Linked DNA regions of Homo sapiens. The protein of the gene in region 5 purifies or fractionates together with the protein of the main gene of each other region. This does not show direct contact. Each region holds a gene or a part of one and is shown on either strand. Other genes may lie near its edges.

Region 1 (4,223 bases), on a different chromosome or scaffold from region 5:
AAAAGCGATGTATTCAGCGAAATACATCATACAAATTCAGGTATTTGAGGACGTAAAATTCTAGTGTATGCATTTGAGCTTTAGTGATATGTGCTGGAATGATTTTCAGAACTTTGAATTTTTCTTTTTGCTTTAGGGGCATAAGGAAATGGTGGCAGGCACTTCCTCCTAACAAGAAGGAAGTAGTTAAAGAAAATATAAGGAAGAATAAATGGAAGCTATTCCTTGGTTTGAGTAGTTTTGGATTGCTCTTTGTGGTGTTTTATTTTACTCACCTGGAAGTAAGTCCAATCACAGGAAGGAGCAAGCTACTATTATTGGGGAAAGAACAGTTCAGACTTTTATCGGAACTGGAATATGAAGCAGTAAGTAGTAAGAGTTGTTTTTAATTAGACTGCTTAATATAACACTCAAAGTAGGAAAGTATCTTAAATGTGAAAGATATGTTGTTTTTTAATTTTAGTCTTTGATATGAAATTAGCATTTTTTTTTCCCGAAGGCCTCAGACCTTTCACACTTAGTATTCCTACTGCCTACATTGCTTTTCCTAGCATTCACCCAGCTAACTCCTGCTCAGCACATTTCACCTTAAATGTCACTTTTCTCAGGAAAACCTTCCTTGATTATCCAGACTGGGTTAGGCAGGGTGACTGGATCAGGCCCTAGGAGGTATCCTTCATACCGACTGAATTATGAACCAGCTCATTTGTAGTTGCGCCCATTGCTTGGCTTTACTGGGGTTAGGTCTCCTAGGCTTTTTTTCTCTGCATACTGTACTTTTCCTTCAAAGCACTCATGAGAGTAACATAATTATTTGCATAATTATTTTTTTGATTGTCTTTCTTGTTAGACTAAGCTTCATGGGGGCAGGGATCTTACCTGTTTTGTTTATGGTTTTAAATACTAACACAGTATGTAAGAGTAGAGCTTAGTATATATTTATTGAATAAATAGATTTATAGTCAGAATTCTTATACCTTGAAAATCAAGTAATATAAGATTTTTTTCCCAAACATCAGTTTTAGCAATTTATTATATTTTTTGAATCCAAATTTAAGTTATAATTTAGAAGTCTTACCTCTTTGGAAAGTATAGTAACTCAGGTAGTTAAACATTTTGTACCCTAGTGAGTTTCTTAGGGACAGAGGTCATTTTCTCTCCAGTTCATAGCACATACACATGTTATGTGCCCTGTGGCTCAATTAATATTTTTCGAATTCATGTCCAGTAGCCTCACTTGACAGCTTTGGCATGGCTGAATCTTTTTTTTTTTTTTTTTTTTGAGACAGAGACTTGCTCTGTCACCCAGGCTGTACTGCAGTGGTGCCATCTTGGCTCACTGCAACCTCCACCTTACAGGTTCAAATTATTCTCCTGCCTCAGCCTCCCGAGTAGCTGGGACTACAGGCGTGCGCCACCACGCCTGGCCAATTTTTGTATTTTTAGTAGAGATGGGGTTTCATCCGTGTTGGCCAGGATGGTCTTGATCTCCTGACCTCGTGATCTGCCCACCTCCTAAAGTGCTGGGATTACAGGCATGAGCCACCATGCCCAGCCGCTTGTTGATTCTTAAGTGAAAAAAAGCATACACTTTATGAAAGTTAAAGTAATATTTCAGAACATTTTTAATTTTCTCAGTACACTTGAAAGAGCTCTCATGAATATAACTTCAGAAAAAGTATCTTCTGTGGTGGCTAGTCTTAATCAGCATCTTTTAGAGACAGTGATAATGCTCATTAGTTCTGAGAATTCAGTAATTTCCTTTCAATCTGTGAGTAAAACACCTTAAAATTAATGAAATGTCTATTTTGGTAGTTTAACTTTCTTATTAGGTATAGGGTGTTTTTCTGTTCAATGCATTGTGAATTTAATTTTCTTTTGTATTTTACTTAGATGAAATCTTAAGTTCTCCAGGCTCTCCTTTTCTTTTCTTTTTGAGATGGGATCTCCCTCTGTCACCCAGGTTGGTGTTGGAGTGCAGTGGCGAGATCTCAGCTCACTGCAACCTCCACCTCCTAGACTCAAGCGATCCTCCCACTTCAGCCTCCCATGTAGCTGGGAACACAGGTGCATGCCACCACGCCTGGCTAATTTTTTGTGTTTTCGGTAGAGACGGGGTTTCACCATGTTGCCCAGGCTGGTCTTGAACTTCTGAGCTGAGGTGATCCTCCTGCCTTGGCCTCCCCTAGTTCTGGGATTACAGGCGTGAGCCATCTTGCCCTGGCCTAGGCAGTGTTTTCTAAAATGTTTAGGAAAGTAGAAATAATACTTAAGTATTCGTTTGTAGTTTAATCGAAAAGAATGAAATTTTGATGTCAATCTATTCATAAAAAAACTTAGTATTAGAATTTATTCCTTTGTAAGAAACCACATTGTCTTTGCATGAATAATTCAGATTTGAGAAATTTCAGTGCTTAATATATGCAGATTTTTATATAATTAAAACTTAAAATGTTCAATAATAAGTAGCCATATAACTTTCCATGAAGCAGAGTAAGCATTTTGTAGTGCTCTTTTAAAATAAGAAGTAATTTTTAATCTTTCAGTGGATGGAAGAATTTAAAAATGATATGCTAACTGAGAAAGATGCCCGATACCTGGCTGTTAAAGAAGTGCTTTGTCATCTAATTGAATGCAATAAAGATGTTCCAGGGATCTCTCAGATCAATTGGGTTATTCATGTGGTTGATTCCCCAATTATTAATGCCTTCGTGCTTCCAGTAAGTAAATGTTCTCAAACGCATTGTAATTGTTAAATTTATTGTCCTTATTTTTTATGATGTTCTAATTGCTTACATTATTTTCTTTGTGGTGCAGAATGGACAAATGTTTGTTTTCACTGGATTTTTAAATAGTGTAACCGATATTCATCAACTTTCTTTCCTTCTGGGCCATGAAATAGCACATGCAGTACTTGGGCATGCTGTAAGTACCTAAAATGAATGTTCAGGTTTGGAAAAACTGCTTTGAAGTTAACAAGTTAAATCTTTTAAAGAACTGATTTTTTTCAGGTTTTTTAAAAATGATAGACTTTTAGTTTTGGGTAATTGCCTTAATCTGCTACCTGAAAAAAACGTGATTGGCTAATTTTGAGAATTTTTATGGTCTTTAGTATTTGATACTGAATAATATTTTTCTTAAATACTATTTTTATCACCTGTCTCTTTTGCTAAAACGTAATTATTCTCAACCCCTAATTATTTCAAATTAAATTTTAAACTTTCTATAATTATTAATATACTTGTAATCTAGTCAGAAAATTAATTGTAGGGAAGTGATATTACTATTTAAGTGGGTAAATCATCTTTCTTTTTTATTCATTCTCAGAGGATAGCTTGGAGCATCTTTGAAAATGTCTAGAATGATGTGTCATGTGTAATTAATACAGAGTAATAACAATACCTTGCCATTTTACAGTTTACTGAGCTTTTTAGTATATGTGGCTTCCCATTCATAATTTTAATACCCAATGAGGTATGTATTTATTATTACTATTTTATATAAGAGAAAACTAATGTTTAGAAAAACAGTAACATGACTAACCTGACAAAGTAACCGAACTGGGACTTTAACGTGGGTCTTCTGTATGTTAGTCCAGTGTTTCTTCCTTTCACTACAGTTACCTGGTTTTTAGCAGCGCTTTTCTTATAGATCATAGAATTCAAGTTGATGTATGCTCCTGTGAATACATGTCTGTTCATCTTGATATAAGTCCAGGAAAAATAACACATCTGTTTCACACATTTTTTAAATTGTTATTCATTTAAAAATATAAATGGCTCTTTTGTCTACATTAGAGAAAGTATTTTTTAAATTGTAAACGCAAAGGTACATAGTGAAGTGACTGAAATGCTAAATCAGAAATACAAGTAACATTAACTTCAAATGGAAATGATAATGATTCTAATCCTTCTAAGAGTAATCTCAAATTCTACCTGTTCCTTAGACTATTAATAAGATGAGATGGGCTAAATTGTTTTTCTGAAACACTGAAAGTAATTATCTCCTTGATTTCTTTTGAGTTACAGGAAGATTTTAAAAACATTTTTCTTGACTGGGTGCAGTGGCTTATACCTGTAATCCCAGCACTTTGAGAGGCTGAGGCAGGAGTATTGCTTGAGCCCAGGAGTTTGAGACTGGCCTCGGCAACATAGACTCAGTCTGTACAGAAAAATTTTAAAAATTAGCTGAGCATGGTGGCTCACACCTGTAGTTCCAGCTGT
Region 2 (4,223 bases), on a different chromosome or scaffold from region 5:
CCGTTTGATCTTGCACTGGCTCATGAGTCACAAGCCAGTGCTTTCCAGCTTGAACTCTGAGTCACCCTCCTAAGTGAGCAGCTCAACAAAAGCAATACATGTCTCCTGGGCGCCTGCATCCAGGGCTGGGGAGAGCCGCGGCGCGGGGAGCTGGGTGAGGCAGGGGTTCCTGTCAGTCACTCCAGGGGCTCCCACGGGTGGGTGAGGTGTTCTACCTCCCACAGGTCACAGGTCGTCATGAAAGTCACAGGACTGCGGTGTCAGTGCTTAACAAACTGCCTGGCACCTAGGGGTTCTATCTGAAGAACAATTTAAACTTCATTGTTGCTTAAGCAACAATTCATCTAGGAGAATAAATATATGAGGACAGCAAGATGGCTCTGGAAAAAAGCTTTTTTTTTTTTTTTGAGACAGGGTCTTGGTCTGTGGGCCATGTCACCCAGTCTGGGGTACAGTGGCACAATCTTGGCTCACTGCAGCCTCCACCTCCCAGGTTCTTAGCCTCCCAAGTAGCTGGGATTACAGGTGTGCGCCACCACACGCACCTAATTTCTGTATTTTTAGTAGAGATGGGGTTTTACCATGTTAGCCAGGCTGGTCTCGAACTCCTGACCTCAGGTGATCCACTGGCCTCAGCCTCCCAAAGTGCTGGGATTACAGGTGTGAGCCACCGCACCCAGCCAGTGGAAAAGAGCTCTGACGGGAGCCCAGCCCTCTGGGGCAGCACATGTGTCGTAAAATGCTGGGTGATGCTCATCAGCACAGCACCCAACGGACCACTCAGAAGCACATCCTCCGTGGAGGAATCAGCGTTACCTAGGTGAGGCCAGAGAGGAAACAGGACAGTGCTTGTACAAGTGGCTGCCTGAAGTCTGAATCTTCACACTGGACTCCTCACACACAAAAAGTACCACATGCAACACAGAATTGTTTTGTTTTTTTGAGACGGAGTCTTACTCTGTCCCCCAGGCTGGAGTGCAATGGCATGATCTCGGCTCACTGCAACCTCTGCCTCCTGGGTTCAAGCTATTCTCCTACCTCAGCTTCCCGAGCAGCGGGATTACAGGCATGTGCCATCATGCCCAGCTAATTTTCATATTTTTAGTAAAGACAGGGTTTCACCATTTTGGCCAGGCTGGTCTCGAACGCCTGACCTCGTGATCCACCTGACTCAGCCTCCCAAAGTGCTGCGATGACAGGCGTGAGGCACCGCACCAGGCCCACAGATCTTAATTTAAAAAGTTTTATGAAAAAAATCAATGCCCTTTGAAAAACAGGCTGGGTGCGGTGGCTGATGCCTATAATCCCAGTACTTTGGGAGGCCAAGGCAAGTGGATCACTTGAGGCCAGGTGTTCAACACCAGCCTGGACAACATTGTGAGACCCCATCAATATAGAAAATAAAGTTTTTTAAAAAGGTAATGCTGGAGGAAAGCTTAGGATTGACAGGAAACACAGCCTTCAAGGGAAAATGCTTGCATTACACTGAAAAGTCTCTTTAAAACAAAAACTGACGAAACAAAGCAGTACTCACATATACTTTAGGCTTCGTTTCCACAAAAGGCTCTTCAAAGTCAGAAAAATGGAACCAGCATAATAGAAAAACTACAAATGGCCAACACAGATAAAAATAAGTTCAACCGGCATGGTGGCTCAAGCTTGTAATCTCAGCACTTTGGGAGGCTGAGGCAGGTGGATCGCCTGAGGTCAGGAGTTTGAGACCAGCCTGGCCAACATGGTGAAACCCCGTCTCCACTAAAAATACAAAAATTACCCAGGTGTGGTGGCAGGTGCCTGTAATCGCAGCTACTTGGGAGGCTGAGACAGGAGAATTGCTTCAACTCACTTGAACCCAGGAGGTGGAGATTGCAGTGAGCCAAGATTTCACCACTGCATTCCTGCCTGGGTGACAGTGAGACTCTGCCTCAAAAATAAAATAAAATAAAGTAAAATAAGTTCAACCTCAGGGAGGTGCAGATAAAATCAAGGAGGTATTCAGCATGTATCAGATTGGCAAGGGCTGGACAGTTTGGCACTTCTTGCAGGGCTTAGGAAGTGGGGAAACGGAAGGCATGATAATGAGTGCCTGGGGTGGGTGGGCACAACCACCGAGACATCAACCAGCAACGCCCACCAGTTTCTAAATCTGCATGTCCTGGAAATGAATCAAGTATCCAATAACAGAGTAACTGTTAAATTACGGTAAGTGGTTAAATAGAATATGAAGCAACCATTAAAAAAGCAATTAGTTGGTGGGGCACGGTGGCGCATGCCTGTAGCCGAGGCGGTTGGATCACCTGAGGTCAGGAGTTAGAGACCAGCCTGACTAAGGTGGTGAAACCCTGTATCTACTAAATACAAAAAATTAGCCAGGCGTGGTGGCGCATGCCTGTAATCCCAGCTACTTGGGAGGCTGAGGCAGTAGAATCACTTGAACCCAGGAGGCAGAGGCTGCACTCCAGCCTGGACGACAGATTGAGACTTCATCTAAAAATAATAATAATAAAATAAAAGTAAAAAACCAACTAGTTGAAGTGAATTCTATTGTATTAACAGAGTAAAAATGCCCCAAGTCCCAATGTTAAGTGGGGAAAAAGCAAGCTGTGGGTGACTGAGGACCATAAGCATCTGACCCTCTCAGCAATCTACACATGTAGGAACACTCCTGCCACTACATGCAAAATGCCAAGGAAGATGCACGGCAGTCGGTCACTACGGTGGGGAGACTTTTTTTCACAACATACCCTTACTTTTAAGAAAAAAAAAAAAGTGAGTATGTTCCTATTATTTCAGTTTTGTTTCTTCTAGGAAAAATAGTTGGCAGTATTACTAAAGGCCCTGAGCCACCAAACTGATAAAAGGACATTTGTTTTAATGATTCCTCAGAGCATTTCCAATTTGGTCTTCCTTCCCACCAATGAGGCTTCCTCCCTAGTGACTTTGAGATGGGAGTCTCGCTCTGTGGCACATGCTGGAGTACAGTGGCGCAATCTTGGCTCACTGAAACCTCTACCTCCCAGGTTCAAGTGATTCTTGTGCCTCAGCCTCCTGAGTAGCTGGGATTACAGGCCTGTGCTACCACGTTTGGCTAATTTTTGTAGTATAGTCCGTGTTTCGTTATGTTGGCCAGGCTGGTCTTGAACTCCTGGCTTCAAGGGATCTAACTGCCTCAGCTTCCCAAAGTGCTAGGATTACAGGCATGAGCCACTGGACCTGGCCCCTAGTGACTTTCTTAATAATCTTCCCCTTTTCCGTGACTCGTGGGTAGGCAGCGTCTCACGTGGCCATGCATGTCAGTGACCCACACAGCCTCCACACTGTGAGGTTAGCATGTCTCGTGGGCAGACAGCAGTGTCCTTGGATGTACCCGGGGGCTTTGTGCTGTAGAGATGTTATTTTAAATAATAAGCCAAGTCGAGGATGGGAGCGTTTCCATGGCAACTTGAATTTTAAAACCAAGATTTCTTTGGTTACTGTGGTGGCTGAGAACACAGGCAGCTGCCATGTCCAGTGGCTCTCAACTCCTGGAGGACAACCTGCCGTGGCCATTCCCTGGAGTCCCACAGGGCCCCCTCGCCACTTCACTAGCAGGCGACTTCCCTGCACCCGCCCTCCTTTTCATGGTTCCCAGGCCCTCCCACACCTCCCTGTGCTCCCTACTCATTCCCAGGCTCCCCGGGGCCACCGCTGCCAGCCCCAGGGCCCAGCCCATTCCACTAGTCCCAGGCTGAGCGCTGGGAAGTTCTTTCAGCCCCGCACCTTGGCCCAGGGCTGTGGTGTTCCTGGCTTCTCTGCTCCTCCCCTATGGTATCCAGGTTGGGGCTCAAGGGGCCGCCAGCGTGCTGCAACCGGACGATAAAATGAGCCCTGCACTTGGAGTCAGGAGACCTGCATTTGGATCTGGCTCTGCCACTGACTAAATGGCACCCTTGGGGTCTGACCTTCCCCAAGCCTCAGTTTCACCACCTATAAAATGGAGCTAGTAACCATCGTGTCTCAGGTGGCAGTCAAGAATGAAATGAGGAGGACCAAAGCGCCGGCACATGCCTGGCATGCAGTGATAAGGTAGGAAGGGCACTCGCTCCAGCGGGCTCTGTTCCCTCCCTCTCTCCTCTAACACTTCTAGCTCTCAGTTCACACTAAACCTATTCCAATAGGTCCCCAACGCCAGGAAGAGTCTAAATGAAAACAAGTTTGTTTTTTTTGTTTGTTTTAAGACAGGA
Region 3 (4,223 bases), on a different chromosome or scaffold from region 5:
TGACCAAGAAAGCATGTTTAACCTTAGGAAAGGCAAAAAGAAAGACCTCGGGCAATGTGAAATCACTTTATATAAGACCAGAAATGTGCCTGGAGATATCACCAACCTCCATTTTTTTTTTTTTTTAACTACAGAGGAATCTTAAAGAGTGACTCTTCTAGATGACAAGTTAGTGGGTGCAGCACACCAGCATGGCACATGTATACATATGTAACTAACCTCACAATGTGCATATGTACCCTAAAACTTAAAGTATAATAAAAAAAAAAAAAGTGACTCTTGTGTAGTAAAAAAAAAAAAAAAAAAAAAAAAAAAACACTGATAAAATTTCACTTGTTTCTTTTTCTTGTGTTAAAACTTAGTAATTTATTAAAAAGTAACACAGATGGTATGAACCCAGTCATCTAATTACATAATATATAATGGCATCCCTGTGTGTGCAGACATGGAGAGATGCTTCAGTGTTTACCCTGGTTATTTCTGGTGGTAAGATGTTGGGTTGTTATTTTCATCTTTCTATCTTCTGTACTGCTGTAATATTTTATTAATGAGTTTGTTTCATTTTCAGAAAAACAAAGTCACGATTCTTTAAAACAGATGATCTGGTTTTACACAAATAAACCAATGTGAGTGAACTAAGTTTTTGGTTTCTTAGCTGCAATCTGGTCAAACTGACCCAAGCCTAGAAATTTAAAACTTTCCATTAGTTGTTAAGTGTGGTGCAGATAAACTTTATGTTGGTTGAAAATATATAAAACTCACCCTTGTAAAGCTTTATGAATTTGTCCGCACTTTTCCTTCAACACTGCAAAAATACCTAGATGAAAAAAATACGTTTGAGAGTCTATTTGAAACTTATGATAGTACTAACCTAAAAATATTTTTGAAGACCCAGATCAAGTTCATCAATTTAAAATGCTACAAATCCTTCTACATACTAACAGAGCCAAGAACCCATACTCCCCTGAAGGCCCAAGCTTTGTCTCTGGTGCGTGCTAACTGGCCCCTTCTCACCTCAGTATCCCACTTTCAACAAACCTGGAATGATGCTTTCAAGAACAATCAATGCCTCTTGTTCTCATCAAGATCCTAATCTGGCTAAGAATCAAAGGGTACAAATTTATTGCTTATTTCTTTATCCTAAACAATTTGGTAAAAAATCAACTATAGTAAAGTAATTTTTACAATCTTTTCTTGATATTTTCCTTTTTTATTCAAGGAAAATCCCAAAACTAAAGTATCTGATCAGAAGGTAGGCGTGCCAGGCCATCTGAGAAGCAAGCATATGAATGAGCACAGAGACACACATTTTCTGGTTCTCTGAATTAGTATCAGTGATGAAGATTCAGAAATACTGTACCGGGTAGGGCCTGCTGCTCCCTTTCCGTTTTAAGCTTTGCAAAGGTGGCACTGTCATAGCCAAAGGCCACATTTTAAATTCTTAGTAGACTTTTTATTTTTCCCACTGAGTAAGTTCTTTGCTGGTAAACCCGGCTTGGCCTCAGTACCAACTGATGATTCAAAGGCTAAAGGTGAAAACTCACAATATTTATAAAATTGCACAGATAAAAAAGCAGCATGCTTCAGCTGATTTCTCAAAAAACTATTAACCAAATAAAGACTGGCTTATTTACACCAATGGAACGTTTAGGCCCAGAACTGGCTGAGAGCCCCTCGTCCTCCCAGCATCTCCACCCACTATCTGAGCTAGCCTTGCTTTGGCTCTGGCTCTGGCCCCAAGCACAGGAGAAAAGCTCTGACCCCAAGTCCTTGGGGCAGGAATAGCTTCTTCACTGCCATTCTTCCTATGAATGCCATATAATGTAACTGCAAACCAGTTTTGTCTGGCAAATAATTTCTCCAGTAAGTAAATCAGTAACACAACTAACGTAACCTGAAATCTCTTTGATTCCTTGGGTTTTTAAAGGGTTATACCTGGATTCTCTTCCATGATGTTGAGGGCCTCAATTGCTGCAGCAGCTAACAGGGGAGGTAACGAAGCTGAAAAGCAGTATCCCTGGCCGGAAAGTCGCTGAGAAGAAACAAATGAAGACATATACACATTCTCTGTCCTTTCTAGGTAAACATTTGAAAGGCACCAGTTCTCTAGAACAACTACTGAACAGTGTGTACATGTGGTGAGGGGGGTAAGATCCAGCCATAAATAAACATTATACGTGTAACAGCAACAAGACTTTTTGTTAAATGTGAGATCATTTCTAAATAGAAATATTTTGAGTGATTCTTTAAAAATTGACATTTAAATAAAAATTGTGTGATAAACTAAGTAAAATTTCGTATTTCAAAATTATATTTTGAGGTGACCAATGGAGAAATTAGTTTCAGTTTTAGCTCCTGTTTTTAAAAAGAACCCACCTGATGGTCAATTACAAAAGACCTGCCACAGCAGAAACCTCCAATAGAAGCAAGTGCATTCTCCATGTTGGCACTGATAAGATCAATATCATCAATCTGCCGGAAAAGGAGGAGTGACAGTTATTCCACAGTTTAAAGAAAAAAAAGGCCAACTTCAAGCCTAGAGACAAAATTTAACAGCATTAAACTGTCTGTTAATATCTGGATTCAAACTACCTATCTACATGAAAATAAAAAATAAACCATATAACATCTATCGCTGAATGAACTGTAGTCTCATGGCCCATCTGAAACTGTCTCATTTTATACATTTTTACCATTTCATTATACATGACAAATTAACTCACAGCAAAGACAAATAAATTATAAGAAAATAAAACCCAAAGCTGTTCGATATTAAAAGTAGTCACAGGTACAAAATAAGACTATTTCCTCGCTAAAACAGTGGTCTAGCTGGCCTTCCTCATGGGATGCACTGAGATAAATAAAAAGTCTATCGAAGTTTTGAGCACTTTATTCTTGTATTCAGTTTGCCTCTCAGCATTTCATAAGTCAATTTATCCAAACGTCATGGCGATGGAATCTTTGACCAACTGGACAGCAGAAGAACCTAATGTGCTCTAAAATGACCTAATGGGCTTTGAGTCCTACATCTTTCTGACCACTCAGAACTCCTTCGGTCCTCATCTTTGGGTCCAGCCCTCAGCACCAAGTTCCATTCTGGGCACACAGTAGGCATTCAATCATTACTTACTGATGGCCATGTTAATGGATTGTCAGAACACAGCTAGTGTTTTCCTTAGTGTTTCATAGATCCAGCAGAGTTTTGAGAAACTCTGCACTCCTGCCCTTTTTAAAAAGCATGTTTAAACCTTTCATTATGAAAAATTTCAAGCCTGAACAAAGTAGAACAGAACAAAGAATCCCCATCACCCAGATTCAAACATTATCAACTCAAGGACAACCTTGCTTCACCTATATCCCCTACCACCCTCATCATTTCTTTGTAGTGAGTCCCAGACTTCATGGGGTTTCATCTATAAACATTGCACTGTGTATTTCTAAAAGATAAAAACTCTCTCAAAACATAATCACAAAACTAGTATCATACTTAAGACATTAACAATTTTTAAATGTTAAGTTTAAATTTGATGTTAAATATATTCAAATATTCAGTGTTCAGATATCTCTGATTGTCTCACCAAATTTTCTTTTAACAGCATTTGTTTGAATCAGGATCCAAATAAAGCCCGTACATTCTGCTCTCTACTCTCAGGCGCTTGTGAGTATTTCCTCACAGTATTTCCCAAAGTGACAACTGCTGGAAGCATTCACAAAACTACAACAGTGAAGTTCAAGTTTTTTCCTCCATAAAAATTTTCATGCCTTAAAAAAGGCTGTAGTGTACTGCTAAATCTGCTTGAATTACACTTCCATTTATCTTTCCATTTATTCCATTTACCTCCTCGGTGCATGTAACTGCTGAATGTCAGTCTGCCTTGGAGGAGGTGCTTCCATCCAACCTCCCGGGATATTCACTCTGCTTTACATTTTTCTCTGGGACTATATGGTTAGCGGGATGTCGATAATGTAAGGCAATTTTACGTTTTATAGTTCAACTCTGTAACACAGGTTGCACAGCTCTTATGCGCATGTTTTGGAGAAAAAGCTTTCTGTAACTCTTCCCATGGTGGTTGGTAAGACAGCTGTTCAAGACTGGCTGACTTCCTCTGCCCTGAGGCTCCAGGAGCAAAACCCACTAGGCACTGCGGGCAGTCTGGGTCCATTTCCCTCAGAAAAGGAAACATGACACCTCATTCTGTTTGGGACTTTAAGAGGTTTTGCTG
Region 4 (3,744 bases), about 15 Mb from region 5:
CCCCAGAATGCTTGTCACTTTTGTTAGCATCTCACAGAGATTTTGATCTTGGAGCATTTTGGACTCCTTTTTAACTGGGGTAGAGTTTAGAGGCTGGGCAGAGATGCTGGGGATCTGTGTTATTTACAAAGGGAACTAATGTGGAACCTTGGTATCAAGATATGCCCAGGGCCTGAGTAGGGCCTGTCCCAGGACTCACAGGCAGACACATGGTCACAGAATGCCAGTAGCCCAGAAGAAAACAGTAAAGAAACAAAGAAAACAAAATAGGTCACCATTTGAAGCCCTCTCCTAAGCCTAAGGGGTGAAGGCCATGTTTTCAGGCTCAGCCCCGCATCTCTCCCCTAACCCCTTTTCTTTAAAGGGACAGGGTCTCCCTCTATTACCCAGACTAGAGCACAGTGGCATGATCACAGCTCACTACAGCCTCACCCTCCTGGGCTCAAGGGATCCTCCTGCCTCAGCCTCCCAAGTAGCTCAGACTATAGGTGTGTGCCACCACACCCAGCTAATATTTTTTCTAGCAATGGTGTCTTGCTCTATTGCCCAGGCTGGTCTCAGACACTTGGACTTAAGTTATCCTCCCACCTCTGAAAACGCTAGGATTATAGGTGTGAACCATATGCACCCAGCCTCCATCTCTTGTTATATGCATTCTTGTGGCTGGTGGTCGGGGGAGGGGTGGGGGAGGGACAAGGAGCAGAACCGTGGTAAAAGGAGGCAAGGGACGAGGCAAAGAGGCAGAGCCAGAAAGTTCCTCATTTTATACATAAGGCATTGGGGCTGGAGGAAGAGATTTTTTGAGCAGAGCAAGAAGACTGGAGCAGAAGGGAGGAAGGACAAGAGGCTGTGATGTGATCTCTAGTTTTGTTTAACCGTGTTCCTTGTCTTCCATATTCCAGATGTTTTGAGGAACACTCAAAACACCTGGTCCTGTTGGGGCCATCAATCCTAGCACAAAATAGGCCAGGTGCGGTGGCTCACGCCTGTAATCCCAGCACTTTGGGAGGCTGAGGCAGACGGATCACATGAGGTCAGGAGTTCAAGACCAGCCTGGCCAACATGGAGAAACCCTGTCTCTGCTAAAAACACAAAATTAGCCGGGCGTGGTGGTGTGCACCTGTAACCCCAGCTACTCAGGAGGCAGAGGCAGGAGAATCGCTGGAACCCGGGAGGCAGAGGCTGCAGCGAGCCAAGATCGCACCACTGCACTCCAGCCTGGGCAACAGAGCGAGTCTCCATCTCAAAAAAAAAAAAAAAAAAAAAAATTCCTAGCACAAGACCTAAGCCAGTCTGTCTGAATATGTGATGCTATTGGACCTGGAAAACAGTGAGCACTGGGCATGTCACCCGAGCAGAGCAGCGTGTCTTCACTGGCTGACGTATCATGGTAGACGAAAGACAGTCTTTTAGCTCTAGGGCTGCAAAGCTGGAAAGAGTAGACTCTAGGGCTGCCACTGGCCATCTTTCTACTTTGTGAAAAGATCTTGCCTGCAGACTGAGGCCAAAAAAAGATACACAGGGCTAAGGCGTGGGCACAGAGCCCTGGTATGTATGTGTACATACATACATACATACATATATATATATATATATATATATATATTTTTTTTTTTTTTTTTTTTTTTTGAGATGGAGTCTTGCTCTGTCACCCAGGCTAGAGTGCAGTGGCACGATCTTGGCTCACTGCAACCTCTGCCTCCAGGGTTCAAGCGATTCCCTTGCCTCAGCCTCCTGAGTAGCTGGGACTACAGACGTGCACCACCACGCCCGGCTAATTTTTTGTATCTCAGTAGAGACAGGGTTTCACCATGTTGGCCAGGATGGACTCGATCTCTTGACCCTGTGATCCACCCTCCTCGGCCTCCCGAAGTGCTGGGATTGAGCCCTGATATTTTTGAGACTCTGGATCTAAGCATGGTTGAGGCTAGAACTCCAATTTCTTAGTCTTTCCAGTTATATAAGCAAATACATTCTTTTTGCTTAAGCTACTTTTTTTCCCTTTTTTTTTGCTTAAGCTACTTTGATAGAGTTTTAGTCACTTGCCACTTATGAGAGTTATGATTAATATGGGCTATAGAGGAGGGAGATTAGATTTGTTCTAGATGATCCCAGAATTAAGACTAAGGTCTAAAGATGGAAGTCACAGCAAGGGAGACTGCAGTGTGAATCAAGACCTTGATAATGACAGGAGCTGTCCAGAAAGAATGGGAATGTTAGGAGGGAGTGTCTTCTCTGTTGCTGGATGTAGTAGAGCAGGGGTCTGCAATCTTTTACTTAGAGGGCCAGATTGTAAATATTTTAGTTTCTGCAGGCCATATGGTCCCTGTCGCAACTACTCAACTCTGCCATTGTAGTGTGAAAGCAGCCATGGACAGATATGTTAATGAATGACCATGGCTGTGTTCCAATAAAAATTTATAGAAACAGGCCTGCTGGCCCACGCGGGCTGCAGTTTGCTGACCCCTGAGCTAGAGAATCATCTGTTGAGACTGTTAGAGAAGAGGGGCACAGTCACCAGACTGGAGGTAGGGGTACAGCACTACACTAAATGATCCTTCCAGTCTTTTCCAACTTGACTGTTTTTGGGAAACGGCATTCCCAGCTTCGATCAACTGACCTACAACTCTATTTTGCAAATACGCCTGACTGCCACAGAGGACTGCTTGCTTCTGGGCTCTGGAGACCCAAAGTACAGCAGGTCAGAGTAAGTCTTGAGTATTAGTTTTGGAGGTGAGGGGCCCAACAGGGCTCCTCCAAATTCCTCTCAATGGCTCATCTGGTTTGTGTATCATGAATGAATCTAGTAAAACTGTCGTGGGGACATCTGTATTCTTGCCCACGTCTCTCTCTCGGGACAATGAGCTCTGTGAGTTGCCCTAGTCAGGTAAGCCTGGCTCCCTCTTATTATTGGGCCACACTTTACCTATGTGGGGTCACAGAGTTAGGAGGGCTCCGAGGTGCCTGTGAAAAACTTTCCCATCCTCTCCTTACTCTGCAGGATTGAACAGTACTTGCGTGAAGAAGAGAACACCTGCAGAGACAGGATACCTGCAGCCCTAAATTTGGGTTCTACTATTTAGACTATTTCAGCATTTTGTGCTTTTATCTTTATTAACTCCTTTCTACTTTTCTTCTTTCATGTTACTCTTATCTTTTCCTTTTTCTCAAGGTGTTATTAGTCCCTCTTATTTCCTGTGAAGAGCACTGCAGGTGACATATTGCTTTCAAGTCCTGCTTTGGCTATGGCTATACCTCGTAAGTTTTACAAGCATTATTCACATTGTCACGTATCCTGATGGCCTTTGTCTCCCAAACATACAGAATACAGATTCTTTCTTTCCTAAAAAGATCCATCTTCTAGAGCAGGAACAGTTCTAGGTGGCTTTGGTCCTCCCCATTCTGGGTGGAAAAGGAAGATTCAGGCACTTGGGTTTTTCTCCCAGCATCCTCCTCCTGACCTTCCTACCCTATGAGGACTAAGAGGACCTCCTCAAGGAGGGCAGTACCTTGTTAACGAAATAAAAGATGGCATAAACCAGGACGTAGAATGCAGAGCCCCCGGAGACTAGGAAATTTCTCCACCACCAGCGGTAATCCTGAGGAGGAAACAGAGGAAGGTCAGTGTTGTCCTGGGGCAGAACCCCTTCCTACCAATTTCACAGTTGCTTGAGGGGCTGAAGACTCTGGTAAGAGCAGTAACATATGGGGTGATGGAAATGTTTCACAGCTTGACTGTGATGG
Region 5 (4,223 bases):
CTGCTTCATTTTCTCCTAATTACTCATCACCAACTAAAACGCTCTTGTTTATGCATTTGTTGGCTTCCCTCCCCCATCAAATGGAAGCTCTTGAGGACAGGCACTTTGTCTTCCTTAATCTCAGCATGTTTCCTAAGGCTCTGAACACTGTCTGGCACAGAGTAAGGACTTAATAAATAGCCACGGAATGAATGCATGAAGCCCACAAGCGTTTTGCGTGCAATGTTTAAAGGCCATAGTTATGATATTTTGCTACTCCAAGGTCCTGTGACTCTAAGATAGTTTATGGTTTTAAGATTCTACTCTTCTAGCCTCCTGTGATTCCATAATCAAATGATTTTTAAATCCCCATGAGCTGGGTCTTAAAGTCAAATGAAAAGGCACTGTAGGGAGACACAAAACAACTCAAGGAAAACAGTTTGTGTGTGACCGGACAAAACTCATAGTGCCGGCCGGGCGCGGTGGCTCACGCTTGTAATCTCAGCACTTTGGGAGGCCGAGGCGGGCGGATCACGAGGTCAGGAGATCGAGACCACGGTGAAACCCCGTCTCTACTAAAAATACAAAAAATTAGCCGGGCGTGGTGGCGGGCGCCTGTAGTCCCAGCTACTCGGAGAGGCTGAGGCAGGAGAATGGCGTGAACCCGGGAGGCGGAGCTTGCAGTGAGCCGAGATGGCGCCACTGCACTCCAGCCTGGGCAACAGAGCGAGACTCCATCTCAAAAAAAAAAAAAAAAAAAAAAAAAAAAAAAAAACTCATAGTGCCCAGGCAATAAGGAAGACAGGAGGAATGCCCGCTTGCAAAAGGAAAGCACAAAGACTAAAATCCTGAAGCTGTGTGCTTGGGGTGTGCTACAGCTCTTCCCCCAGACCCACCCTGTCAGCTTCCTACCGTCTCTTCTGGAACTGCTGGTCTATCTCTGCCAACGACTGGCCTTTTGTTTCAGGAACAAATAAATAGATGAAGCCCAGGCCGAGGACAGCGGTCAGTCCGTAGAGCAGGAAGGTCCAGGACAAGCCGATGGTGCCTGGAAACAGGAGGGCGGGAGTGTAGGCCCAGGACCAAGCACTCTGGCCCCGCAGCCTGGGCCAACTGGTAGGTTCTAGGTCAGGCATGGAAAGTCAGTTCACTCAAAGCAAATGTTCCCGTTGGTCAATTTGCAGAGTGACCAATAAGCTGTCAGTGAAGTACCTTAAAGCGGAAATCTCGCTGATTGTCTCAAAGGCGGGGATGAGCCAGGACGCAAGTCCACAAGCACAGAGACAAAGGCAACTTGTGTTTATGGGAAAGGCCCCTCACCCACATCTAGAGCACTATCCCGTGGAGCACGCTTGGGCTCCGAAAGCCTGGCCTGAGGGATCGTGGATCCAGCTGAGTGGCCAAACAGCTGCATGGACACGGCCTTGGCAAATCTCAGTTTGAAAAAAAAAAAATCCTTAGAAATTTCATGAATTGGGCTTGGTGCAGTGGTTCATGCCTGTAATCTCAGCACTTTGGGAGGCCAAAGTGGGAGGATCACTTGAGCTCAGGAGTTCAAGACCAGCCTGGGCAACATGGTGAAACCCTGTCTCTACTAAAAATAAAAAATAAAAAAATTAGCTGGGCATGGTGGCACACACCTGTAGCCCCAGCTACTCGGGAGGCTGAGGCTGGAGGATTGTTTGAGCCCCGGAGGTCAAGGCTGCAGTGAGCCGAGATCATGCCACTGCACTCCACCCTGCACTCAGGGCGACAGAGTGAGACCCTGTTTCAAAAAAAAAAAAAAAAAAAAAAAACACACCCAGAAATTCCATGAATCGGTCATTCAGTGAATTGATCATTCAGAGAATTGAGTTTCAGCCAGTTTGACCTGTGACTGGTTTGGGAGAGAGGACAAAAGCCACAGTTCAGTCCCAGAGTCAGCCTCCTCCTAGAGCCTCCGGTGGGTCTCAGAACCAGCAGCCAAGATGGGAATGACCCTGAGTCATTTGATGTCATTCATCCCAAGACAGAGAAGAGGCTGTGGAGGAAGGATCTTTGTCAAGGTGGAAGACAAATTATGTTTTGGAAGCCATTCTCACCTCTGACAGCCACGTCCATACCTCCTTTAGGCAGCCTCCCATGACCAGCTGGACCTATCGCCAGCAGGGAGAGCAATGGGCTGGAAGGCAGTGGGGCTGGTTCTAGTCTTTTGACTCCCTGGCTGGACGGGGTAAGGATGTATTTTCCCATCTGTGAAATGGGGATGATATATGACACAATTCTAATAAATTCCTTCCTTCCTTCCTCCCTCCCTCCCTTCCTTCCTCCCTTCCTTGTTTCTCTCCTTCTTTCTCCTCTCTCACTCATTTACTCCACACAAAGGGAAATGCTTGAAGACTGAGGCTGCAGGGAGAAGCTTGGATTCCCTAAGACTGGGGTTGGAAGACAGCCATGATAGGGGGGGTTCTTCCACTGGGGTTTCCCACAGCACTGCCCCCCAGCCTCCCAAGTTGGCTGCACCTTTGGGAAGGAAACTCTTGGCCATAGGGAATAGGAAAATAACTGAACCCTAAGAACTGTGCCTTGGGGACCACAGTGAAGGAGCCTGTGTACTCTGGCCCAGATGAGCAATACCCACTGAAGACCAGGGCCTGGAGCCATGAGCATCTCAGCATCTCAGAGTCATTCCCTGGTGTTCTGGGCCCACATCATTTCCACCCCATCCCACCACACCTCAGAATGGGTTTCAATGCTAGGGAGGAAGAGATGATGTCACCCAAACTTGATTTGAGAAAAACTTCCAGGCCAGACACGGTGGCTCATGCCCGTAATCCCAGCACTTTGGGATTACAGGTGGATCACTTGAGGTCAGGAGTTCAAGACCAGCCTGGCCAACCTGGTGAAACCCTGTCTTTACAAAAAATACAAAAATTAGCCGGGCGTGGTGGCGGGTGCCTGTAGTCCCAGCTACTCGGGAGACTGAGGCAGGAGAATAGTTTGAACCCGGGAGGTGGAGGTTGCAGTGAGCTGAGATTGTGCCACTGCACTCCAGCCTGGGTGACAGAGCAAGATTCCATCTCAAAAAAAATTAAAAATTAAAAAGAAAAGAAAAGCCAAGAAAAACTTCCACCTGGCAGGTGTCATGAACCAGTTTAAGCCAGTTTGGAGCAAATAAACATTGCTACTCTTACTCCTGCCGGTTGACCTCAGATGACCTCTCACCAGTACTGGGTGTAGACCATCACCCATTAGCTGGCCTGGGGAGTTTTACAGTGCATATGAGGGTCCTGGATGTCGTCTTGGACATTTGATGATGTTTCTGCACAGAATAATAGTTCTGCAGCTAATACATAGGAAAATCCAAAAATTTCTGCTTTAGAGTAGGGAGCTTGGGCCACAGAAAAAAAACGGACTTGTCTGGGAAGGACTCACCAATGAGATCGAGGAAGGAGAGGCTGATGAAGAGGTTGGCCGCCCAGTTGAAGCTGTTGCAGAAGGCGAAGGCTCTTCCTCGTATCTCCACAGGGTAGATCTCGCTGAGGACAAGCCAGGTCACTAGGGTGGGAGAGCAGGAGGGCTCCTGGGCTGTGGTGGGACCTGGGGCCTGGCACCATCAGGTCAAACATGCAGCCTCTCAACAATGGGATTTTCTAGTGTCAGGCTCCTGATACTAAACTCCCACTCCCATTCTGCTATAAGAATTACAGTAGAGTCTCAGTTTGCTGAAGACTGAGAGGTTTTCTGAGACATGAGACTTTCAATGCCGAGATGGGAACAGTCTTGGACGAACTGGGATGATTGGTTTTCACGCTATTCATTAAATTCCTTCCAGTTGTGAGCTATCCGGGCTTTAAGGGACCTGAAGCTCAAATGACTTGGGGAGGCTTTTAAGGAATACAAATTACAAACATAAAATTAGGCACTGGCCCTGGGAGGAGCAACTGCAGGTAAGTGAGGGGCCCTGAGGCTTCATGGTCAACCCACCTCTAGTGCCCCACTGACACCCTGCCAGGTCATCAGGGTGGGAAGTCCCCAAACTTCCCCCTAGGAGGGGTAGAAGTCTCCAGAGTCACCTGCAAGAAAACTCCACTTACCTGGCCCAAACCCAAAGGAGAAGGCACTGACAAAGACCATCAGGCACAGCAGTGCGGTCCAGCGCAGCAGTGCATGCCCCCGAGCGGGCAGAGGGGGCCCAGGGAGGGCAGAGCTCAGGGCCAGCCGAGGAGGGGCTGAGGGGTCTCCAGATCTGGGATGGGGCTTGG
Region 6 (4,223 bases), on a different chromosome or scaffold from region 5:
TCTTAAGTTTAGATCTCTGATCTTTATATACTTATTATTATTTTTTTTTATAGAGATGGAGTCTTGCTGTGTTGCCCAGGCTGGTCTTGAACTCCTTGGCTCAAGCAAACCTCCCATGATGGCCTCCCAAGGTGCTGGGACTACAGGTATGAGCTACTGCACCTGGCCTCTTTACTTTTCAAATTAAACTTTTTATTTTGACATAATTATAAATTCACATGCCGTTGCAGGAAATAATACAGAGATCCTAGGTGCCCTTGGGTTTTGTTTTTTTATTTAGCATTTAGTCCATTTACATTTAATGAAATATGATACATTTGGGTTTAATCTGCTATCTTACTCTATATATTCAAATTGCCTATTCTCTGTTCATTTTTCTCTCTAGTCTTCTTTTAGGTTAATTTTTATTATCCTATTTTTCCTCTTCTATTAGCTTGAAAGTTATATGCTCTTTTCTCAGTTTTAAGTGGTCACCCTAGAATTTAAAGCAGGCATTCATGTTGTACCAAAGACTAATGATAATGTGTACTTTACCTTCTTCCTGGACAGTGCAAGGATCCTAACACACTTTAACTCCATTTATTGTTGTCATTTGTTTTAATTATTTCTGTTTTAAATCACACAACCCATTGTTTTGTGCAGTCAGATATTTAGATTTTCACCCTTATAGTCACTGTATTTGTTGTTCTTCGTTCCTTCTGGAATCTGACTTTACATCTGGATGGGGATCATTTTCTTTCTCCCTGAAGAATGAAAGTGTGAGTCTGCTAATGAATTCTTTTGGTTTTTGTTTGTTTGTCTCAAAATATCTTTATTTTACCTTCATTCTTGAAGGATACATTTGCTGAGTATAGAATCCCATGCTGGCTGTTACCTTCCTGTATCTCCAAACATATCAGTCATCTGCCTTCTTGCTCCCGCTGTTCCCGCCGTGAAGCCGGGTGTCAGGCTGATTATTGCTCCTGTGAGAGTCATTGCCTTTTTTCCCTCTGGTTCCTTTTTCTTTAAGATTATTATTTTTTTTATGGCCGGGCGCGGTGGCTCACGCCTGTAATCCCAGCACTTTGGGAGGCCGAGACGGGCGGATCACCTTAGGTCGGGAGTTCAAGACCAGCCTGACCAACATGGAGAAACCCCGTCTCTACTAAAAATACAAAATTAGCCAGGCGTAGTGGCGCATGCCTGTAATCCCAGCTCCTCAGGAGGCTGAGGCAGGAGAATCGCTTGAACCCAGGAGGCAGAGGTTGCAGTGAGCCAAGATCACGCCATTGCACTCCAGCCTGGGCAACAAGAGCGAAACTCTGTCTCACAAAAAAAAAAAAAAAAAGAAAAAAAAAGGCTGGGCGTGGTGGCTCACATCTGTAATCTCAGCACTTTGGGAGGCTGAGGTGGGCGGATCACAAGGTCAGGAGATCGTGACCATCCTGGCTAACACGGTGAAACCCTGTCTCTACTAAAAATACAAAAAAATTAGCCGGGTGTGGTGGCGGGCGCCTGTAGTCCCAACTACTGGGGAGGCTGAGGCAGGAGAATGGCGTGAACCCGGGAGGCAGAGCTCGCAGTGAGCAGAGATTGTGCCACTGCACTCCAGCCTGGGCGACAGAGTGAGTCTGATTTTTTTTGAGAAAGAGTCTCACTCTGTTGCCCAGGCTGGAATGCAGTGGCACAATCTCGGCTCACTGCAACCTCCACCTCCCAGATTCAAGCAGTTCTCCCGCCTCAGCCTCCCAAGTAGCTGGAATTACAGGCATGTACCACCACGCCTGGCTAATTTTTGTATTTTTAGTAGAGACGGGGTTTCACCATGTTGGCCAGGCTGGCCTCAACCTCAAGTGATCCACCTGCCTCAGCCTCCCAAAGTGCTGAGATTACAGGCGTGAGCCACTGCACCCGGCCAAGATTCTCTGTTTTTAAGGAGAACAATAGACACTCCAGACTAGATGGGGGAGGACGTGGGTTGAAAAACTACCTATTGGGTACTGTTCTCCCTGCCTGGGTGCAGTATACCCATGTAACCTGCACATGTAGCCCCTGTATCTAAAATAAAAGTTGAAATTGAAAAGAAAGAAAAAATGCTTTTGTGGCACACGTTCTCAGGATTGCCTGGGGCTGTACCACGGGGAAAAAAATTAGAAAAAAATAGTTTCATGTTAAAAAAAACTTTTTTGTTGTTGTTGCTGTTTCCTCTATCCCTCCCTTCTTTTTTTGTGCCTAAATATGGTTTTCTTTTTAGTCATCTCCTTTGGTTTGTAGGACTTTTCAAGTTTGTGGCGTGTCTTTGAATCAGTTTTAGTAAGTGCTTAGACGTCTTTAAATATTCCTTTGCCTTCATTTCTCACATCTTACTCGGGAATCCCAATTATATGAGTCTTAGCCTCTCTCACTGTTTCCTCTGTCTCTTACCCACAATTCTATATCTTCCATTCTTTTGTGCTCTCGGGGACTCGGCCTAGGTTTTGTTATCTGGGTTCCTGGTGCCCAGAGTGGGAGCAGTGAGTCTGTGGCATCAATGAATGCATGAAGCATATTGCTCAAATTGGGGTACAGTGTTTTTTATTTTTCTGTGATCACAGAAGTAATATGTTTATTATACATTATTCAAACATGGTAAACAGTCGCCATAATCCCCCTCCCAGAATTACCCATCATTAATACTGGTTCATGTTCCTTTACTCCTGTATTCATTTCTCTTCATGCTCATCTGCATTGGACGTTAATGGTCTTTTTCACAGTTGCCAGTCTGACAGGTCAACATCCTGTTTGGGTTTGCCTTTGTGATGGGTCTTTGTTTAATCACTTGCTTACATACCCATCTGCAGACTTCCTGAAAGTGGATTCTTGTCACCGTGTGTGTTGACACCTTAGTTTTCACAAGCGACTTCCTGATGCCTAAGGCAAGGCTTTCTCCCTTGGCGTAGGCGGTGCCCATCCCTGCCCCAGCTCACATGGTGGTGCCCTTGAGTCCCAGAGCACGACCCTGACCAGCTCTCATCCCCAGCGCTGGTACCACACTTAGGCTGGGCTGGGGAGGTGAACTGGTGAAGGGCTGGGTTTTGGAGTCAGCCAGACCTGGGCTTGAGGCCAGCAGCACTGACCCGGCCTGATTTTCCTCACTTGGGAAGGTTGGTTAGCAGGGTGGATGTGGCAGTGGATGTGGGTGACCAGAAAGGGGCTGGTGCAATTTATGTGAAAGGCCTGCAGGCCGCGGGAAGTACTGAAGGCAGAGCAGAGCTCTCGGAGTCAGAAAACCCTGCATGTGAATCCAGACAGTCCGCTGAGCAGAGCTCTCGGAGTCAGAAAGCCCTGCGCGTGAGTCCAGACAGTCCACTGAGCTGCTCTGGACAAGTTGTTACACCTCTGAATTTGTTTTCCTGTAAAATACTTTGCTCAAATAGGAGTTGTAACGTCTGCAGAAGGTTCCAGGGCAAGAGCAGTGGATGGAGAGGAAATGGCTGGTGGGTTTGGCTGGTAATGAGGGTGAACAGTGTGGCAGCCACCTAAACCTACTCAGGAGCAGCCTGAGGTCTGCTGGCGGGGTCTGGGCCTCAGGCAGCCTTGGAACACTGGCCTCCCCCACCTCACCTGGTGCCCAACAGTCTCTTCCCTTCACGGCCAGAACATTTAGGGGTCTGTGGTCAGTGGCACTTGTGGCCCTGTGCCAAGGAGTGCCCAGTCTTAGCTGGGGAGAGAAGAGAGGTCTGTGGGGCAGGGGCCGTGCTGGGGTTGCCTCCAGCTTGCTGGAAGGCCCTGGGGAGCTCTGAGCAGCCCATTCTGCTCTCCCTCCAGCCGTGCTTCCTCAAAGACTGGGAAATGCACGTCCACTTCAAAGTCCACGGCACAGGGAAGAAGAACCTCCATGGAGACGGCATCGCCTTGTGGTACACCCGGGACCGCCTCGTGCCAGGTGGGCTGGTGTTCGCTCAGCTGGGCCCTGTGGGGGTGGGCACGGGCATGGCTGCTGGCCCCCTAGGGAGGTGGGGTGGGGCTGCCTGTGGCTCGTGGGGACCAGCGTCTCCTCTCCTGTTAGGAAAGTGCTGCCTCCCGTGGATAAAGTCCTGCGCCTCCGGAAGGAGCCTGGCTCTGGAAGGAAGGTCACTGAGGGGAGAGGAGCAGCTGGGTCCTGCAGCTCAACCCTACACCCTCATTGGCCTGGTTTTACCATTTTAAACAGTTATTGTTGTAAAAAAGCCAAAACATGAAGACTGTGTGGCTGTGACTGCATG
Region 7 (4,223 bases), on a different chromosome or scaffold from region 5:
TTTTGAGCTGTGATGTTTATATAGTAAATATCTATCAGTTTATATAGTAACTGTCACTGATATTTTATGTTTTGTATGGTTATTTTATCGTAATTCATTTTTGTTATTAATGTAGAGGTTATTGTCCTAATATGAGCACTTAATAGCAAAACACATAGTAATAGTGAACCCAGCTCTTCTCATTTCTAGCCCAGAACTTTTCCCGTTAGACGTGGCTGCTTCAAGCCACTCATTCTAGGATATTAGGAAAGGATCTGATTTTGGAGACTCAGATCTGTATTAAGTTTACTTGAAGCTGAGGAGCTGAACTGGAAAGTACTGAGCATGAGATACAAGTGTGGCTTGTATTACAGTGGAATTAAGAACTTATTCTGGAGCTAGAGAATATGGGTTTGAAATCCAAGGTATCTGTGATCTTGTGCTAATGAAAATTTACTTATTTTTGAGATGATTTGAATACCACTCATTTATAAATATGGGTAGCATTCAGAATTATCATAAAGATTAAATGAGAGATTTTATATTGTATTTGATACATAATCATTTCCTTTCCCCTCTTTTTTATGATAAATGTAAGATCATGGTCGTTGCCTACCCAGCGTGATTTTTTTTCTCAAGAAGTTGAATATAAAGAACTTAATTATACTTCACTATTAAAATAGGTAATTTTGGTTGGTAGTTTACTTTTTTAAACAATGTTACCACTACCTAAATTTTGTTTTGTTTTCTTTTTTTTGAGACAGGGTCTTACCGTGTCACCCAGGCTGAAGTACAGTGGTGTGATCATGACTCACTGCAGCGTCAGCCTCCTGGCTCGAGCAATTCTCCCACCTCAACCTCCTGAGTAGACGGGCACATGCCACCATGTCTGCCTAATTTTTAAATTTTTTACAGAGACAAGGTCCTACTACGTTGCCTAGGCTGGTCTCAAAACTCCTGGGCCCAAGCAATCCTCCCAAAGTGCTGGGATTACAGGCATAAGCCACTGTGCCCAGCCAACCTGAAATATGTTTTAAAACTTCATGTTGGGGATTTATCTTCAGAGGCAGTTAGCAAACCTCTGATAAAGCAGATCCTAGTCAAAAATTGTATTATCCAGATTGCCCCACATTTCCCCCAGAAGTGGCACCAGGTGATCCTTGACTCCTTTCAGTAATCAGATTAATCATCCCAGTATGAATTTTTCACTATTAAGGCAGTTCAGAAGAATAATATTCCATAGGTTCTAGAGACAGTTCCCAGGGGAATTCCAAAGAGATTTGAAAATGATAGCAACATTATTACAAATATCTGGCCTCCCAAGAGAACTACCTTGATGGTAATTCATTTGTTTGGTTATATTTGTTTAATAAAACAAGGTCTTATTTTTGTCATGTCAGTTTTATTTATAATGTAGGGACTACCATTATAAATGTCTTCTGTTGCTGGGCATCGTGGCTCATGCCTGTAATCCCAACACTTTGAGAGGCCAAGGCGGGCGAATCACTTGAGCCCAAGAGTTCAAGGCCAGCCTGAGCAACTTGGAGAAATCTGTCACTACTAAAAATACAAAAATTAGCTGGGCATGGTGGCGCATGCCTGTAGTCCCAGATAGTTGGGAGGCTGAGGCACAAGAATCACTTGAATCCAGGGGGCGGAAGTCACAGTGAGCCGAGATCTGCTACTGCACTCCAGCCTGGGCGATAGAGCAAGACTCTGTCTCAAAATAAATAAATTAATTAGATAAAATAAAAAATAAATTAGCTGGGTGTAGTGGCACACACCTATAATCCCAGCTACTGAGGAAGCTGAGATGGGAGGATTGCTTGAGCCTGGGATGTTGAGGCTGCAGTGAGCTGAGATCATGCCACTGTACTCTAGCCTGGGTGACAGAGTGAGACCCTGTCTCAAAAAAAAAAGTCTTCTGTATCCTAGACTGCATATATCCTTCATCTCTAAATCTCATGATAATTCTAAAACATCAGTATTATCCCAATTTTAAAGGTAAGGATACTAAGACTTGGGGAAGGAAGTTATTTGTTACAATCATACTGATTAAAGGCCAAGATTTAAATCTAGGATTATCTCTACTCTAAAGTCCATATACTTTGTACTATATTTTCCTGCCTTTCCTGTTCATGAAATTTATCTATTTTTTAACTCTTCTTTAATGGAATGCTTCATGAATTTGCCTGTCATCCTTGTGCTAGGGCCATGCTAACCTCTGTATCGTTCTAATTTTAGTATATGTGCTGCCGAAGCGAGCACTGTTCATGAAATTTATTTTTATTTTATTTATTTTATTTTTATTTTTTGATACAGGGTCTCACTCTGTTGCCCAGGCTGGAGTGCAGTGGCACGATCTTGCCTCACTATAGCCTCTGCCTCCCAGGTTCAAGTGATTCTCCTGCCTCAGCCACACAAGTAGCTGGGATTACGGGCCTGCACCACTACATCCAGCTAATTTTTTTTTGGTTTTTGTGGGTTTTTTTTGTTTTTTTTTTTTTTTGAGACAGAGTCTTGCTGTGTCACACAGGCTGGAGCACAGTGGCACGATCTCGGCTCACTGCAACCCTGCAACCTCTGCTTCCTGGGTTCAAGCCATTCTCATGCCTCAGCCTCCTGAGTAGCAGGACTACAGGCATGTACCACCATGCCCAGCTAATTTTTGTATTTTTGGTAGAGACATGGGGTTTCACCATGTTGGCCAGGCTCATCTCGAACTCCTGACCTCAAGTGATCTGCCCACCTCAGCCTCCCAAAGTGCTGGGATTACAGGTGTGAGCCACCACGCCTAGCCTTAATTTTTGTATTTTTAGTAGAAATGGGGTCTCCCATTGTTCCTTGTTGGCCAGGCTGGTTTCAAACTCCAGGTCTCAAGCAATCCACCTGCCTCGGCCTCCCAGAGTGCTGGTATTAAAGGTGTGAGCCATCGTGCCCAGCCTTGTTTATGAAATTTAAATGGCACAGTATACACAAAGCTCTTATGCCAGTTTTTGGCAAACTATAAGTGCTTATTAACTATGGTACTTAATACTGTCAAAAACAATATAATAATAAGTCTATATGCATATAGGAAGTAATCGTAGTACTATTTGACATACTCTCTTATAGTAAACTATTTGGGTCACTTTTCTTCTCTTAATAACCCTTAAAATCAGTTGAACATGGTCAAGTCCACTGGGACTATTCGTTGTTTTTTATAAAGAAATAAGCACTATTATAACAAAGTCTTGACAAACTAGGTATCTTATTATACATGTTGTCTTTGAACATAAAGATGAGAGCTAGTTTATGCTCTGTATCTTTTTCTTTTCTTCCTTTCTGAGGTGTTTGCAGAATTAACCAGAGAGAGCCTTGCTTCTCTTGGTATATAAACATAAGGATGAAAATGAAATAGCTAAATTTTCAGTGTTTTGGCAGCAAGACAAAGCTGTCTTCTTTAGGACTATCATTATGAAAGTTTTTATATCTGTTGCTTGTCAATTTGTGTTACTTCTCTTTTATGTTTGGGTATTTTCCCCTTAACTTTATTTGAACCTATTTTGTGATGATGGGGATTCTGACCATTTATACCTCATATAAGGAGAAGAGCATCTTTCTCGTGGCCCACAGGAAAGATCCTACAGGAATGGATCCTGATGATATTTGGCAGCTGTCCTCCAGTCTTAAAAGGTATGACTATCCTCACAGATTTTTAAATCCTGGTGTTGGATTTGCCCTGGCATGTTGTCATTATCAACAGAAGACTTATTATGTGCCTACTCTATGTGGATCATAGGGCTAGTCATATAAAATGAAGAAAGGAGTATGGATGATCTAGAAGGTTTGTCCTAGCCCTATAGTTCTGAGATTGCGTTATCACAGAAATGCTCTGAGGATAAACTGTGGGAGAAGGTACTTTTTCCTGTGGCCAGTTAACAGAGACGATTAAGCATACAAAAGTATAAAGGCCAAAGATGTGAGATCAGTTATCTTTGAAGAATTCCATTAGCTTCTGTGTCTTCTATGATCCTGTCTTCTCTCCACGAATACAATCAAGAATATCTGGAGCAGTGCACTGGGCAACTCAAAAAAAGCACAATCTAGAGTCTGTTTCTGACCAGTGTCAGGTATAACTTTGTGCAGCTGACACACATGTGTTTTGTAGGTACCAAGAACTAGGTTCATGTTCCAATTCAGTTTCTTTCTAGCTGTATAACTTTGGGTAAATCATATAAATTATCTGAGGTTTAGTGGGGTCA

The links.
Region 1: the proteins of SLC2A10 (region 5) and OMA1 purify together in Homo sapiens (affinity purification with mass spectrometry; one large-scale study listed by BioGRID and IntAct). This does not show direct contact.
Region 2: the proteins of SLC2A10 (region 5) and CTSB purify together in Homo sapiens (affinity purification with mass spectrometry; one large-scale study listed by BioGRID and IntAct). This does not show direct contact.
Region 3: the proteins of SLC2A10 (region 5) and SPTLC1 purify together in Homo sapiens (affinity purification with mass spectrometry; one large-scale study listed by BioGRID and IntAct). This does not show direct contact.
Region 4: the proteins of SLC2A10 (region 5) and TM9SF4 purify together in Homo sapiens (affinity purification with mass spectrometry; one large-scale study listed by BioGRID and IntAct). This does not show direct contact.
Region 6: the proteins of SLC2A10 (region 5) and LMAN2 purify together in Homo sapiens (affinity purification with mass spectrometry; one large-scale study listed by BioGRID and IntAct). This does not show direct contact.
Region 7: the proteins of SLC2A10 (region 5) and SPCS2 purify together in Homo sapiens (affinity purification with mass spectrometry; one large-scale study listed by BioGRID and IntAct). This does not show direct contact.

What each region holds. Positions count from the first base shown.
Region 1 is NC_000001.11:58,532,655-58,536,877, reverse strand, and holds part of OMA1 (metalloendopeptidase OMA1, mitochondrial precursor), read left to right. Parts: intron 1-136; coding exon 137-365; intron 366-2,546; coding exon 2,547-2,720; intron 2,721-2,817; coding exon 2,818-2,925; intron 2,926-4,223. UniProt on the Homo sapiens protein: Metalloprotease that is part of the quality control system in the inner membrane of mitochondria. Activated in response to various mitochondrial stress, leading to the proteolytic cleavage of target proteins, such as OPA1, UQCC3 and DELE1.
Region 2 is NC_000008.11:11,854,099-11,858,321, forward strand, and holds part of CTSB (cathepsin B isoform 1 preproprotein), read right to left. Parts: intron 3,843-4,223; exon of another isoform or gene 3,760-3,842; intron 1-3,759. UniProt on the Homo sapiens protein: Thiol protease which is believed to participate in intracellular degradation and turnover of proteins. Cleaves matrix extracellular phosphoglycoprotein MEPE. Involved in the solubilization of cross-linked TG/thyroglobulin in the thyroid follicle lumen.
Region 3 is NC_000009.12:92,045,237-92,049,459, forward strand, and holds part of SPTLC1 (serine palmitoyltransferase 1), read right to left. Parts: intron 2,473-4,223; coding exon 2,377-2,472; intron 2,033-2,376; coding exon 1,936-2,032; intron 818-1,935; coding exon 763-817; intron 1-762. UniProt on the Homo sapiens protein: Component of the serine palmitoyltransferase multisubunit enzyme (SPT) that catalyzes the initial and rate-limiting step in sphingolipid biosynthesis by condensing L-serine and activated acyl-CoA (most commonly palmitoyl-CoA) to form long-chain bases.
Region 4 is NC_000020.11:32,161,131-32,164,874, reverse strand, and holds part of TM9SF4 (transmembrane 9 superfamily member 4 isoform 1 precursor), read right to left. Parts: intron 3,600-3,744; coding exon 3,510-3,599; intron 1-3,509. UniProt on the Homo sapiens protein: Associates with proteins harboring glycine-rich transmembrane domains and ensures their efficient localization to the cell surface.
Region 5 is NC_000020.11:46,726,157-46,730,379, reverse strand, and holds part of SLC2A10 (solute carrier family 2, facilitated glucose transporter member 10), read right to left. Parts: coding exon 4,056-4,223; intron 3,566-4,055; coding exon of another isoform or gene 3,517-3,565; coding exon 3,394-3,516; intron 2,212-3,393; coding exon of another isoform or gene 2,087-2,211; exon of another isoform or gene 1,753-2,086; intron 1,028-1,752; coding exon 892-1,027; intron 1-891. UniProt on the Homo sapiens protein: Facilitative glucose transporter required for the development of the cardiovascular system.
Region 6 is NC_000005.10:177,338,169-177,342,391, reverse strand, and holds part of LMAN2 (vesicular integral-membrane protein VIP36 precursor), read left to right. Parts: intron 1-3,786; coding exon 3,787-3,904; intron 3,905-4,223. UniProt on the Homo sapiens protein: Plays a role as an intracellular lectin in the early secretory pathway. Interacts with N-acetyl-D-galactosamine and high-mannose type glycans and may also bind to O-linked glycans.
Region 7 is NC_000011.10:74,966,046-74,970,268, forward strand, and holds part of SPCS2 (signal peptidase complex subunit 2), read left to right. Parts: intron 1-3,519; coding exon 3,520-3,654; intron 3,655-4,223. UniProt on the Homo sapiens protein: Component of the signal peptidase complex (SPC) which catalyzes the cleavage of N-terminal signal sequences from nascent proteins as they are translocated into the lumen of the endoplasmic reticulum.